Regions from separate parts of the Homo sapiens genome. Here region 2 is linked to region 1. Evidence: fine-mapped expression QTL. Tissue or cell type: whole blood. Region 1 holds a variant in brackets; the other region holds the start of a gene. All regions are shown on one strand. Distances are from middle to middle.

Region 1 (7,458 bases):
CCGGGGAAGCTCACCGGGGGCCTCTCCTGCCAGGAGCACTCTCCCTCCACGGCTGCCTGACTCCCAAGGCACATGCTGCTTCTCTGAGCTGCAGTCTTGAGGCTGACCCCCAATAACACAGCAAAAGCAACTAGCTCGTCCTGCAGCTCCTGGTCCAGACTCTCATTCATAACACTGACCTTGACTGACCAGGTGGAATCCAAATTCACTGTATAAAGTGATCCAGGAATAGAAAACACAAACTGAGGCTGATCAACATGTTGAAAATACAAAGACGCTAAATAAAGAAGCTACTTTTTTTTGGTGTGGTGGGGGAGGGGGTGGGTGGGAAGAACAGAGTTTCACTCTGTCGCCCAGGCTGGAGTGCAATCATGGCTCCATCTTCCAGGTAATACTCCCACCTGTCTCCTGAATAGCTGGGACTACAGGCGTACGCCACCATGCTTGGCTAATTTTTGTAATTTTTTGTAGAGAAAGGGTTTTGCCATGTTACCCAGGCTGGTCTCAAATTCCTGGGCTGAAGCAATCCTCCTGCCACCAAAGTGTTGGGATTACAGGTGTGAGCCGCTCCACCTGGCCAAGAAGCTACTTTCAAGTGATTTTGATTGTCATGTCCCTGTAGGAGCGGATGGCTCCTAAAGGCTGGGCTGCTCCTGGAGGCCATGCCCTTGCCCCAAGGGAAAAGGCGGCTTTGTGCCTGGCCACTAGCACCAGCATTTGAACACTAAATGGGCTCCCAGTTCAAAAAGGGGAGCTGGAAGAAGTCCAAAAGCAGGGGCCTGCATGGAGCCTAAGCACTTACAGCTCAAGGCTGGAAGCCACCAGCCATGCCACAGTCATCTCCAGGTGTCAGACACCAGGGAAGGCCAAACAGGACGAGACATGGGTGCTCTCTTTTAATCCCGGGGTAAAAGGCAACCCCACCGCTTCTGGAGGTTAGTGATGTAATCAATACCAGATTTTTTCTTTTTTTTCTTGAGACAGGGTCTCACTCTGCCACCCAGGTTGGAGGGCAGTGGCGCAAGCAGGGTTCACTGCAGCCTCAACCACCTGGGCTCAAGTAATCCTTCTGCCTCAGCCTCCTGAGTAGCTGGGACTACAGGCACATGCCACCACCCGGCTAATTTTATTTTTTTTGTAGAGACTGGGTTTTACCATGTTGCCCAGGCTGTTCTTGAACTCCTGAGCTCAAGTGATCCTCTTGCCTCAGCCTCCCAAAGTGCTGGGATTACAGGCGTGAGCCACTGTGCCTGGCCCCAATACTAGGTTTTCAGCTCACAGCTTGCAGTAGTCTCAAACAGAAAAGGTCCAGCATCATGCCAAGTGCCCGCTGAGGCTTCACAGACAGCCTGGGACCTCAAGGACAAGCGGACGACCAGCCCCACACTAGGTCCCTGGTGAGTGTGTAGACAACAGGTCAGCTTGCAATGGCTCCTGGATTTGTGTTCAAAGAGTGAGGCTTTCCCTTTGTAGGACTAAGCCAGACCCTAGACCTCTGAAGGTCCAGCAGCCACACACAGGACTGAAGCTGTTGACCTAGGCCAGGACTCAAAGACCAGATTCCTAAAAGGAAGATGAGGTTAGACCAGCACTGGAAACTTCTAAATTCCAACTTGATACTTCCCAAAGAGTAAAAACAATCTGAGAAACGCCACTCCTCCACCCCCTCCCTGACCCCCCATCTCTTATTGTCTGAGCTGGGTCTGAGTCCTAGGTGTATAGAAAAAGAGTGAACTTGACAGTGGCCAACTGGGGGTGTGGGAGAGACAGAGCTTCCAATTGTGCTGGGGACCTCAGGGGCTCCTAACCAGCCTCTCTCCCTCCCCTCCTGTCTCAGCTGAGGCCTCTCTGGCTCTTTGGTTGTCCCTGAGCTTGAAGGGTCTAGCTCCACGCTGCCATGTGCCCACTCCACTGCCAGCACAGGTGTGGCGCCACTATAGTTCAAGACAGGGGTCACGTGTGTTAGTGCATATATATTTTTCAAACTAAGAAAACCAACTCGGCCGGGCGCAGTGGCTCAAGCCTGTAATCCCAGTGCTTTGGAAGGCTGAGGCAGACAGATCACAAGGTCAGGAGTTCGAGACCAGCCTGGCCAACACGGTGAAACCCCGTCTCTATTAAAAATACAAAAATTACCTGGGCGTGGTGGTGGGCACCTGTAATCCCAGCTACTTGGGAGGCTGAGGCAGGAGAATCGTTTGAACCCGGGAGGCGGAGGTTGCAGTGAGCCGAGATTGCGCCATTGCACTCCAGCCTAGGTGACTGGAAGACAGGGCAAGACTCTGTCTCAAAAACAAAACAAAACAAAATGAAACAAAAAAACCCAACTCAGTTTTGCGGGGGTGGAAGCAGGAAACCTTGCTGAGGCCTAGGATCCCACTTTTTTAGTGATTCCTATATATTCAAGGCTAGACAAGAATACAAACATAAAATAAGGTACACATATGGTCTTTAAAGATTTTGCAAGAATCTGACGTAGGGATGGGGTGGAGGAAGTAAGGACCAGTGACATTCACCCCCATCCCACAATGTTAATGCAGCTTGATGGCCTGAGAAGCTACTTACACCAGATTGGAAAGTTTATCCCAGTGTGGATTTCTGAAAAAGCTGCGGAAATCGTAGAATGGCATATTCCCCAAAGCAGCACTTTTTTTCAAACCATGTGTTGTGACCCATTAGTGGGTTATAGAACCAATTTAGTGGGTCATGGTCAACACTGGACAAAAAAAAACCTGAGTGCATTAATATACATGTGGTAAGAATAAGTACTATTAGGTTGGCAAAAAGTAACTGCAGTTAAAATATTTTGAAAAAACCCGTTCAGTTGCATATATAACACGTATGTGTCCCGGGTCATGATATAAAATGTGTATTTTACCGTGAGTGACTGCTGAGAAGCTGGAGAATCTCCACTCTACTGAATTCTCTGCCCAGCACCTGCGCCGACTCTCGGTCCTTTCTGGCCAGGCTTCAGGGCAGTTACATCAGAGGGAGGACATCCCTCTCATGAGAAGCTGGTCTTGGAACCAAAAAACATGCAAACCAACACAAAACCCAAGACCCACACAGTCACACTCAGGCACTTTTAGGGTGAGGAACTTTAACTTTCTGACCTGACTTAAAATGTTACTAAATTGGCTCAAACAGTAAAACCAGGAGAGGCAGAAAATGGGGCCTCCTGTTGGAGCTGGACTCCTCTTCCAGCTTCTTCCTAAGCCCGAGTTTCCAGTTTGGACTGGATTTGAGGATGTGAATGGTCAGTAATTCCGGCTGGTGCCAGTGTAAGGACTTTCTCAGAGCAGTTGACCATCATGTGGCTGAGCCCTGATAACCCGGCAATCAGCTCACTGCCCACCTGAGGACAGAAGGTTTTACCAGCAAAGCACAAATGGCCAGGGGGCCTCACATGCTTGGGGGAGGGGAGGGAGAACCTCCGGAAATGGCTGGAAGTAAAAGAAATGTTGGTGCCCCTAGCTGGAAAATTCTGTCAATCATGAGCTACGGAAGCCATTCAACAGAGAAGCTGTGCTAAGACTGAGGTCAACTGATTGAATAGTTTTTGAGTGTTTTCTATAGACTTAAGACAAGACAAGAATACAAATATATAATTAAGAATGGGAATTAGCTTTCTAGAACTTACACTGAGATGAGGGAGGTAAGATGAAATTACACCTGAAAACAGTTATACACAAGTAAATAGAGCACTAAGCTGGGTGGGGAGACCAGAAACTGAGTCCTGTCTGGATGGCGGTGGGGGAAGGCAGGAGGACCGGGGTTGCAGGGGAACTGCACACCAGGGACAGCCCCCACGCCCTCACCCCTGACACCCTCTCTGATCTCACAACGCAGACTCTCAGGCTGGGCAATACAGTGCTGCTGCATCACCGCCTGGAAACTCGGCTGCAGCTCGCCAGCTTGCTGGAATGGCCTGGAGGCACAGCCTGCCCGAGGGACAGAGAAAGGGGACTGAGTCCAACTGCCTG[C/T]TAAGTGAGGGGGAAGGACTGCAGAGCTTGGCCTGGCAGGGGGCCAGCGGGCTGGTCTCTGCAGATGCTGCGGTGTTTGATAAGCAATATGTGCACTTGGCGGCAGGAGCTGGGAGCCGAGGAGCCCAGCCCTGCACCCCTCTGTCTTGGCTCTGGGCTTGTCAACCTGGCTTAAAAAAAGACAAGAACAGCCCAGGCCTGGCTCCTGCATTTGAAGGGAGGGGACAGATGGGCATCTTTAGGAGAAGGCCGCCTCCTTCCTCAAAAGTATAAGTAGAAGGCAGAAAAGTGATCAGCATGATTCCATGTTCTGTTCTTGTCAGGCCTGACTGGGTATCACTACCTAACCAGTGGCCCCGGACTGCTCCATTTCAGATGCGACAGGCTGCGGTCCTGTGGCTGCCGGGCATCCCTGAGAACAAGAAGGGAGTCGGCCAGCTGGCCAGGCACAGAGCAAGTTCACAGCCTCAACACCCCTCAGTGTCTGATGCCATGTTAGTTCACGGAATGAGGACCCAGGCTGCTAATCACACAAACTGATCCTGACGGAGCCTGCCAGGAAAGAACCCCACGTGCACTGCCTCTCCCAACCCTATGACCCCCACGAAGGAGGCACCACTCTTGTTCTCATTCCACAGGAGACTGGGTGGCTTGGAGAAGTAAGTGAGCTGCCTAAGGTCACCCAAGTGCCAGGACTCCAGAGCCTTTGTTTTGCTCACCTGCCCTTCCTCATTTGACCTGTCTGGTCTCCAAGCATGGCCCTTGCTACACCTGGACCAATTGGAACCATGCTGCCATTCAAGTGTGGCCCTGGGCCTGGCGAGGTGGCTCACACCTGTAATCCCAGCACTTTGAGAGGGCAAGGCGGTTGGATCACTTGAGGTCAGGAGTTGCAGACCAGCCTGGCCAACATGGTGAAACCTGGTCTCTACTAAAAATACAAAAATCAGCTGGGTGTGGTGGTGCGCACCTGTAATCCCAGCTACTTAGGAGGCCGAGGTAGGAGAATTGCTTGGACCCAGGAGGTGGAGTTTGAGTGAGCTGAGATCACGCCACTGCACTCCAGCTTGGGCAACAGAGCAAGACTGTGTGTGTGTGTGTGTGTGTGTGTGTGTGTGTGCATACACATATATGTATATACAAATATATATACATACATGTATATACAAATATATGTACATACACGTATATACAAATATATACACATGCACATACACGTATATACGTATGCGTATACATATGCACATACACGTATATACGTATGCGTATACATATGCACATACACGTATATACGTATGTGTATACATATGTACACACACGTATATATGTGTGTGTACATATGTACATACACGTATATACGTATGTGTATACATATGTACATACATGTATATGCGTATGTGTATACATATATACATATATGTGCGTGTATAGATATATAAAGTGTGGCTTTATATACACATACGTGTGTGTGTGTATATGTATATGTGTATATGTGTGTGTATATGTATGTATATGTATATGTGTATATATGTGTGTATATGTATGTATATGTATATATATAAAGCATGGCCCTGGACTGGCAGCCCAGCATCTTCCCTGAGCTTGCTGGAAACGCAGACTCTCAGGCCCCATCCCAGACCTGCTGCCTGGGAATCATCTGAAAAAGTTCCCCAAATGATTCTGATGCACACCCCCCAGAGAAACAGCTAAAAGGGACTGCATCCCTCTGAGCTGCTTCTGGGAAAATTTGGGGGAAACAGCGGTGTTCCCCTGTAGCTATGCTCCCCAGGAGAAGAGGAGCCCTGGAGGGGCTGTGTCCAAGAAGTGGGGCAGGGCCTGCTCTCAGCCATGACAGACCGCACGTGGAAGAGACACAACCTCCCTGAGCCCACACCAACCTCCCCGCGCTTCTCAAACACCTGCAGTTACTATTTCAAGGCAGATGAAATGAATACCATCCCGGGATGCTGGCATCACTGGGACACCAGCTGGCCTGGAGAGTGGGAGTTGACCAAAATGTCACTTCTTGGCTGGGTCATTAGGTCCTAAGACCCTCAACTGCCCACCTTTGCACCTCCATCTCTCCCAAGGCACAACAGCAACAAGCAGCTCATCTCAGGACAGTGAAACAGGACTCAAATACTAACTAGAACAGCACCATCATGGAGACTGGGAGGAGTTTCTGCCCAATTCTGCAGGTGCAGTGAGACAAAGCTGCGGCTGGTCACATGGAGGCTACACACTGCAGGGGACAGAGATGTGGAGTATAAGCTTCAGGGCACAGGGACCAGGTCCTGCAGGGGCCACAGAGTTGCCACTCCCCAGCTGTGTGTGCTGGAGTCATGTCACATCTCTGGGCACCAGATGCCTCATCAGGGGGTTGGGCAACACTGAGCTGAATGAGCTCCAGGCCCTTCCGGCTACAGCTCCAGAGCTTGTCCCCTAAACACCTCCTGGGGTCCTGATTTCCACCTGCCTGGCACCTCTCCCTGACTCAGGGGCAGGCTTCTGCTCTTCACATGTGGGCACCCCCATTGACCATCAGAGCAGGCCAGCCGAAAGTCAACGACATCCCTGGGCAGCATGGCCCAAGGAGGCCCCCATGGCTGGGGCACCAGGGCAGGTCCCTAGACGAGGACCTCTTCCCTGGAGAAGACGATAACATTTACAAAGAACAGAACACAATGCAAAATTTCATGTATGGGCACATCAGGATTTAAATGTATTATTACAGTGAGGGGATTTTAGATACACCAGGAGAGCTATCTGAAGAGAACCAACAGGAAATCTTAGAGTATTAACCACCTCCTTGTTAATATGGTCAAAATTCTCTACCCCCTCCTTTTTATGAGTGTGGACACACCCACCACCAGTGATAAGAGGACATGGATGGAGGCCAAATGAGAGTGCACTGGGTGGCTGAACTGAGCTGGGTCTTTAGAGGCCATCACTAAAACCACCTGGCAGAGAGCACCACGAAGGGCCTTCGACTACAGGAGGAAAGAATGCTAAGCATGTCCAGGGGCAGGAAACAGCTATTGCAGGCCCAGGCGAGACAGGAGGAAGGGAAGAGGAGCAGGTGTTTGATGCTGCATGGATGCATCAGCGTCCGCGAAGAGACGTCTGGGTGAAGAGATGAATGTCTCACTGCACCTGCAGAATTGGGCAGAAACTCCTCCCAGTCTCCATGATGGTGCTGTTTCCGCTGGTATTTGAGTCCTGGCTCACTGCATTTAGAGGAGCTGCTTGCTGCTGTTGTGCCTTGGGAGAAGTGGAGGTGGAGAAGTGGGCAGATGAGGTTCAATGCTCTTCACCACCTCAGGAGGAAGGCGCAGGGGGAGGTCACAGAGCTGGGACACGTGGAGTGGGCCTACACCCAGTCCCACCCTGGGGTCTGGGATAGCTGCCCCACACTGCCCTGGGACGCCCTGAAGAAGGGATAATAGAGAACAGACACCAACATGTGAGACCTGGA
Region 2 (7,458 bases), 30 kb before region 1:
CAGGATGGTCTCAAATCTCCTGACCTCATGATCACCCGCCTTGGCCTCCCAAAGTGCTGGGATTACAGATGTGAGCCACCGTGCCCGGCCCCTAAGCTCAAAGAGCTTGTGAGATAGAACCTCCCCCTTCCCCGGTCCTTGCAACCCCCTAGGCAGTAAAGTACCATAAAAAGGGAAAAACCGGAGTGGTGGCTCATGCCTATAACCCCAGCACTTTGGGAGGCCGAGGCAGGCGGATCACTTGAGGTCAGGAGTTTGAGACCAGCTTGGCCAACATGTGAAACACAAACTCTACTAAAAATACAAAAATTAGCTAGGTGCAGTGGCTCACACTTGTAATCACAGCTATTCGGGAGGCTGAGGCAAGAGTATTGCTTGAAACCGGGAGGCAGAGGTTGCAGTGAGCCAAGATCGCGCCACTGCACTCCAGCCTCAGCCTGGGCAACAGAGCGAGACTCTGTCTCAAAAAAAAAAAAAGGGAAAGAAGTTGAGGTCAAGGAAGACCTTGAGGCTATGCAATTAGGGAGCTGAAATCTCCTAGGGAAGGTAGCTTCAGGGAAGGGTGAGATGGCAGGAATCCTCTCCTCATAAAAGCAAGTAATTTGCCATCTGGCAGCCTTGACTCCAAGTTTCTGGAGAGCTGGGACCAGGCCAGGTGAATGCCTGCTTTCTTTCTCGGGAAAAGAAAAAAGGGGGTTCTCAGGTGTGTCTCCCTGGGGAGGCTGCCCACAAGGAAGGGGAGGCTGGGGAAGTTAGAAAAAGTCTCCCACCTGTGAAGCAGATTACCTGCAAGCCAAGCTCTGGGTTGGTGATCAAATCAGACCTCTCTGCCGGCCCAGGCCTGTTCCCAGGCCCACGGTGGGCCTTGCTGAGCACAGCGGCTGCTCAGCTGTTTCCAGACTCAGGATGAAGCCTGGGGAGGGCTTGGAGCTGCTTCCTCTTTCTTTTTTTTTTTGAGATGGAGTTTCGCCCTGTCACCCAGGCTGGAGTGCAATGGGACGATCTCAGCTCACCACAACCTCTGCCTCCTGGGTGCAAGCAATTCTCCTGCCTCAGCCTCCCAAGTAGCTGGGACTACAGGTATGCGCCACCACACCCGGTGTAGAGACGGGGTTTGAGACGGGTTTCTCCACGTTGGTCAGGCTGGTCTCCAACCCCCGATCTCAGGTGATCCACCCACGTCGGCCTCCCAAAGTGCTAGGATTACAGGAGTGAGCCACTGCGCCCGGCCTGCTGCTTCCTCCTCCTCAGGGAGACGCCACAGCTCTGCGGCAAGCAATCCACCAGGCACCAGATCCCCAGATACCTGCCCTTCAGGGAGAAATAGCCTGGGATACAGAGAGGCCCAGAGGGGAGCTCTGGCTGGACTTGGCTTCTCAGCGTGGGGTCTGGGTTCACAGGTTTGCTTCTCTGCTTTGTGGGGAACTGGTTGGAGGCTTGTGCAAGCCTCTTCACCTCTCAGGGTTTCAGGCCCCCCCAACTCCTTCCCGCCTTGTCCTTTTTTCTTTTTTAAAAAAGGAAGTAAAGTACAGTGGGAAACGGGCCAAGCTGGCAGCTTGAGAGATCCAAGTGCCCGCCCCCCGACCCGCAACCGTGGGAAGGGGAACCATCTTGCTCTTGGCCAATCCTGCCTCTCTGAGCAGGGATGCAGCTGGGGGAGTTTCTGGAGATAGGATCAAATTCTTTAGAAAGGGAGAAGGGGAAAGGGGTCTGGAGAAAGGCAGCCTGGGTTGGGGGAAGTGAATGACAAGAATGAGGGGGGCAAAGGCCTTGGAGGTGAGGGGGGCAGGGGGTTAGGCGCCAGGGAGGACAGAGGACCCATTGTGCGGCCTGGAACCGGGGCCAGAGGGCTTTGCCCTTCGCCTCCCTCCCGCGGGGCCTTCCAGAGCCAGGAGGGGAGCTGGGGCCCGGAGGCGTTGGATAAAGAGCCCGTGCCCCGCCTCCCCTTGCCAACTCAGTTTGCAGTCAACCCCGCCCCCGCCCGCTCCGCGGACTCAAGGCTGGTGGTAGTGGGCCTGGAGGCGCAGGATCCGACCTTTCTGGGGCCCCAGGAGGAAAAAAAAAGGGGGGACCCTGAACCAGGTGGGCTTTATCACCACGAACTCACAGTGCTTCCCTGTGCCTCAGTTTCCCCTCTTCAGACTCTATGGCTAATGACAGAGCTTTTCAGATTTGGTGGAAATGCTCTCCGGGGCGGGGAGCAGACGGGGAAGGCTGCCCCAGCTAATCTCCGCAGCCAGTACCCTCGAAGGCTGAGATCTCGGGGAGCACAGCCTCCGATTCGCGTTTTCTAGGCACCAAAGTCCCTCGCTGGAGGAAGAGGAGGGGAAGAAGGCAGAGGAGAGGGGAGGGGCGGACGGATCTGGTCCTGGGCTCCCGCGCGGAGCCCCCTCCTCCCACAGCCGCCGCTCGCGTCCCCGCAGCGCATGACCGCGGCACTGCGGCTGCAGGGCTCTCTCCCCCGCCCGCGCCGGATTCCTGGAGCAAGGGGGTGGGGGGCTCGGAGGTGCAGGACCCATCATTCCGACACGCGCCGCGACGCCAGGAGTCGGGGATGACGCCCCTGCTCCCTCCCCTCGTTCCTGTTTCTCGGAGTTTTTCGACCCCTGAGCGCGTCGCTGAGTCACCTTCCCGGAACGCGCTCGGGACGCTCTGGACCCAGCGGGGACTGCCCGGGGGCCGCGCAAGGCGAAGGCGCACCCGCCGATACGCGCGCGGAGCTGCGGCCCCAGGGACCCCGCGTCCCAGCCAGTGCCCCCCGACCCGCCCGGGGACTCTCGGGTCCCGCCCGTCTGACCCCCCAAGTGTTGGGAAACGGGGCCGAGCTGCCTGGGTCCTCCGGAAGAGAAGACACCGCGGAGGCGTGCCGGAGTTCAGGGCGCCGCCCGGCTAATTGGCTGCGTGCTCCTCCTGGACCTGCCTCTTCTCGACTTTAAGAAGCGATGAGAGAGGTGTGTGGGGGCGGGTGGGGCCGGCGGGGGCGCGCGAGCCCCGCAGCCTCCCGCAGGGGCTTGGTTTCTCCTAACTCTGGCCCTACCTGGGCAGGTCACCAATGGGCCTTGGCAACTTCTTCCTCCGTCTCCGCCGTAACCCCCCAGGGATCTAACTCGAGGTGCTCGCGGACACGTTCTGTGGCTTGCCGCGATAAGTGTATCACAAACACACTGACAAACGCGTCCCTACTGGCCTCCAAAGAAGTGACAACTTCTGAGCGCGTTTCCGGCGCCCCTTCTTCACGCTGAGCCAGAGGGGGCGGGGGGCACGTACCACATGCTTGGCTTTCCAATCCCGACGGGGGCCCCCAGGCCCATCTACACTGTCAAGCCTCCTCTCCGGCTCGGAGCCCCCGGCCTGTCGCCTGCTCTACCCGGGACAGCGCGCTAGGCGGCCTCAGGCTCGGTAGCCCAGCTGCAGCGTCGGGAAGTTAAAAATAACCTCCGTGGGAGCGCGGGGGAGGAAGAAAGAGGGAAGCTGGTGGGCGGCGGGCGAGACGCCCCGGCCTGGAGAGGCGCCCCGGGTGGCGTGCGGGCCTCGAATTTCGGGTGGGCTAGGGCAGAGCGCGCAAAAGGGGCGCTGCATCCCGGCGCCGACAGCACCCGCGGGGGCGAGGTCGTGGCGTCGAGGTGAAACCAAGGGTCCCCCGGGAGAGCGGAGCCGCGCGCGCCCGGCGCTCGCTCCGACACGAGTTCGCGCGGAGCCCGCGCCTCCGTCTGCGCTGCGCGGTCGCTTTCGCGCGCCCCAGACACTGCGCTCGCGGCCGGGCCCGGGACTCCGCGCCTCGCGGCCTGCCGCCTCAGCTCACCCGGCCAGGTCGCGGCGCCGCCTTCTAGCCAGACGCCTAGGACGAGCGGCGGGGGCGCGCTTGCCGCTTCCTAGGACCCGGGCGGGAACCAGCTCGTGGCCCGGCCGTGGGCGCGGGCCGTGCCGGAGGCGGCGCGCTGAGGCCGGAGGCGGGCAGAGGCCGAGGCCGCGCCGGGCTCAGGTTCCACCCCCGGGAGCGCGGGGCGGAGCCAGGCCGGCGCCGAGGCTCAGTGCCCTCCCCGCTCCGCGGCGCCGGCTGCGAAGTTGAGCGAAAAGTTTGAGGCCGGAGGGAGCGAGGCCGGGGAGTCCGCTCCAGCGGGGCGCTCCAGTCCCTCAGACGTGGGCTGAGCTTGGGACGAGCTGCGTTCCGCCCCAGGCCACTGTAGGGAACGGCGGTGGCGCCTCCCCAGCAAACCGGACCGACTGGGTAGGGCCGCCCACCCTGCCTTCGCGCCGCTCGTGGCTCCTGTGCGGCCCGCCCTCGCGGGGCCCCGGGAACTGGGCCACTTGTCGCTTGGGCGAGAGCAGGCGGCAGCTGGTGGCCCGGTTCGGGCTTGGCTTTGGCGCGACCCGGGAGCGGCTCCCACGAGCGCCGCGCGCGTCGCAACGGAGCGGGGCCCTGAGAAGCGCGCGCCGCGGCTCCCACCGCTCTGGAGCTCCGGGCAGGGGACACGGCAACCTGGATGGCTGGGGCAGGGATCCTCTCCCAGAACTTCGTGCCCAGCAATGTCCGCTCAAGTTCTGGGATTTTTACGCAGCTGGACTCCCCTCCCCCTGGCAGCCCCGAGGGGTGAGGAGCTAGTCCGTCGGAGGGAGCCACGGGGCTCTGACTCATCCGTCGGGCCGGAACCGAACCCCAAGCCCCAGGGAGAAAGCCCCGGAGCAGGCGCCCTTCTCAGGGATTGTAGGCTTAGTCACACGGCGGGGGCGCCCTCGGAGGCACCGGACCTCAGCTCTCTGGACTTCCCGGGAACCTGGCTCCCCGCGCGTGGTCCCGGGATTTAGTCGGGCGCTCCCCACCTCTGGCAGCTGCGGCCCCGGACTCCGCCAGCGCTGTCTTCTCTCCCTCAGGTCCAGCCGCCGCAGGGAATGACGCCGGTGCTCCTGCAGCCACGGCTCCGGGCGGGGAAGGCGAGCCCCACAGCCGGCCCTGCGACGCCCGCCTGGGCAGCACCGATAAGGAGCTGAAGGCAGGAGCCGCCGCCACGGGCAGCGCCCCCACAGCGCCAGGGACCCCCTGGCAGCGGGAGCCGCGGGTCGAGGTTATGGATCCAGGTTTGTGGGGTTCCTGCTGGGAAGGGCTGTAGGGGGATTCCTGTTCCTCGCCAGGAATGATGGAACGCCCAGCTGGACGAAAGGGGCTGTGGACGATCGGGAGAAACATTATCCCTCACGAGGCCAGAAGCCGGCCGAATCTGAGCCAAGGAAGGGGGTGGCAGGGGCGCCGCGTCCCCACCCCAGGTCTCCCAGCAAAGGCCGCTCCTCTGGCCAGGGTCAATTACCGGGGTGTTTCGGGCACCAAGTTCCCACACTAGTGCCCCATTGTTACCCGTGGCCCCCTAGTGGTCGGTTGCGGACGTGGCCTCTTTGGTTTTGTTTTCTCAGCGGGCGGCCCCCGGGGCGTGCTCCCGCGGCCCTGCCGCGTGCTGGTGCTGCTGAACCCGCGCGGCGGCAAGGGCAAGGCCTTGCAGCTCTTCCGGAGTCACGTGCAGCCCCTTTTGGCTGAGGCTGAAATCTCCTTCACGCTGATGCTCACTGGTGAGTACCTCTCGGAGGGGGTTTCGGGAGCATCCCCTGGCAGGGGACCCCCCCAGTCCTGATAGCTGCCGGTCTCCCTGCAGAGCGGCGGAACCACGCGCGGGAGCTGGTGCGGTCGGAGGAGCTGGGCCGCTGGGACGCTCTGGTGGTCATGTCTGGAGACGGGCTGATGCACGAGGTGAGGACCGCACTGCGCGGCTAGGCCTGGGGCTTGGCGCGGTGCGTCCCAGGCTGAGGCCACGTGTGCTTCAACAGGTGGTGAACGGGCTCATGGAGCGGCCTGACTGGGAGACCGCCATCCAGAAGCCCCTGTGTAGCCTCCCAGCAGGCTCTGGCAACGCGCTGGCAGCTTCCTTGAACCATTATGCTGGGTGAGAGCCCAGGGCCAGAGTAGGCCTGTTTCCCGTCAGTGCTCCTCTACCGCGGGGGTTTTCTTGTCTAAGCTCCCATAGGCTGAGATCATTTCCATTTCCCCTTCTCCCTTAGTCCTGGGGCCCTCTCCTGGTGACCCCAGCTGACTGCTTCCATTTGCTCCATCTGTCACCTACCAGTCCTGCCAACTCCCCAGGGACCACATGGCGCTTTGCCAGCTCCCACTCCCCGGGAGGAGGAAGCGGGGGATACATGGGGGCTCCTGTCCTGCCTTATCTGACTTTTTCCCCCTGCAGCTATGAGCAGGTCACCAATGAAGACCTCCTGACCAACTGCACGCTATTGCTGTGCCGCCGGCTGCTGTCACCCATGAACCTGCTGTCTCTGCACACGGCTTCGGGGCTGCGCCTCTTCTCTGTGCTCAGCCTGGCCTGGGGCTTCATTGCTGATGTGGACCTAGAGAGTGAGAAGTATCGGCGTCTGGGGGAGATGCGCTTCACTCTGGGCACCTTCCTGCGTCTGGCAGCCCTGCGCACCTACCGCGGCCGACTGGCCTACCTCCCTGTAGGAAGAGTGGGTTCCAAGACACCTGCCTCCCCCGTTGTGGTCCAGCAGGGCCCGGTAGATGCACACCTTGTGCCACTGGAGGAGCCAGTGCCCTCTCACTGGACAGTGGTGCCCGACGAGGACTTTGTGCTAGTCCTGGCACTGCTGCACTCGCACCTGGGCAGTGAGATGTTTGCTGCACCCATGGGCCGCTGTGCAGCTGGCGTCATGCATCTGTTCTACGTGCGGGCGGGAGTGTCTCGTGCCATGCTGCTGCGCCTCTTCCTGGCCATGGAGAAGGGCAGGCATATGGAGTATGAATGCCCCTACTTGGTATATGTGCCCGTGGTCGCCTTCCGCTTGGAGCCCAAGGATGGGAAAGGTGTGTTTGCAGTGGATGGGGAATTGATGGTTAGCGAGGCCGTGCAGGGCCAGGTGCACCCAAACTACTTCTGGATGGTCAGCGGTTGCGTGGAGCCCCCGCCCAGCTGGAAGCCCCAGCAGATGCCACCGCCAGAAGAGCCCTTATGACCCCTGGGCCGCGCTGTGCCTTAGTGTCTACTTGCAGGACCCTTCCTCCTTCCCTAGGGCTGCAGGGCCTGTCCACAGCTCCTGTGGGGGTGGAGGAGACTCCTCTGGAGAAGGGTGAGAAGGTGGAGGCTATGCTTTGGGGGGACAGGCCAGAATGAAGTCCTGGGTCAGGAGCCCAGCTGGCTGGGCCCAGCTGCCTATGTAAGGCCTTCTAGTTTGTTCTGAGACCCCCACCCCACGAACCAAATCCAAATAAAGTGACATTCCCAGCCTGCTCGTCCTGTCCTGGTGACTGGGGAGAGAATGGGTTCTCGTTCTGGCCGGGACTATAGAATTTAATGGTAATGATGGCCAATGGTGCCCCCTGGGATGGGCAATGGATTTTACTGGCCCCAGGCATAGTCATTCTGGTGGGGGACTCAGGACCAGAGCTGGTTCAGCCTAATGGTG

What was found. PIP is the estimated chance that this variant, and not a neighbour inherited with it, causes the effect.
Region 2: SPHK1 starts here. The variant in region 1 is fine-mapped to the expression of SPHK1 in whole blood (INTERVAL, PIP above 0.99).

What each region holds. Positions count from the first base shown.
Region 1 is chr17:76,410,727-76,418,184 of GRCh38, forward strand. All of the region lies in intron 1 of UBE2O (ubiquitin conjugating enzyme E2 O), which reads right to left. Among named protein-coding and RNA genes, the nearest start is that of SPHK1, 30 kb to the left of the region's middle. The variant C/T (reference allele first, on the strand shown) is at 3,984.
Region 2 is chr17:76,380,579-76,388,036 of GRCh38, forward strand. SPHK1 (sphingosine kinase 1) reads left to right here and starts at 4,031. Exons shown (of 6, transcript NM_001142601.2): 1 at 4,031-4,228; 2 at 4,873-5,076; 3 at 5,407-5,559; 4 at 5,643-5,737; 5 at 5,815-5,930; 6 at 6,228-7,277. The coding sequence starts at 5,067. The coding sequence ends at 7,008. RefSeq lists silencers at 2,669-2,958, 2,979-3,118, 3,699-4,398.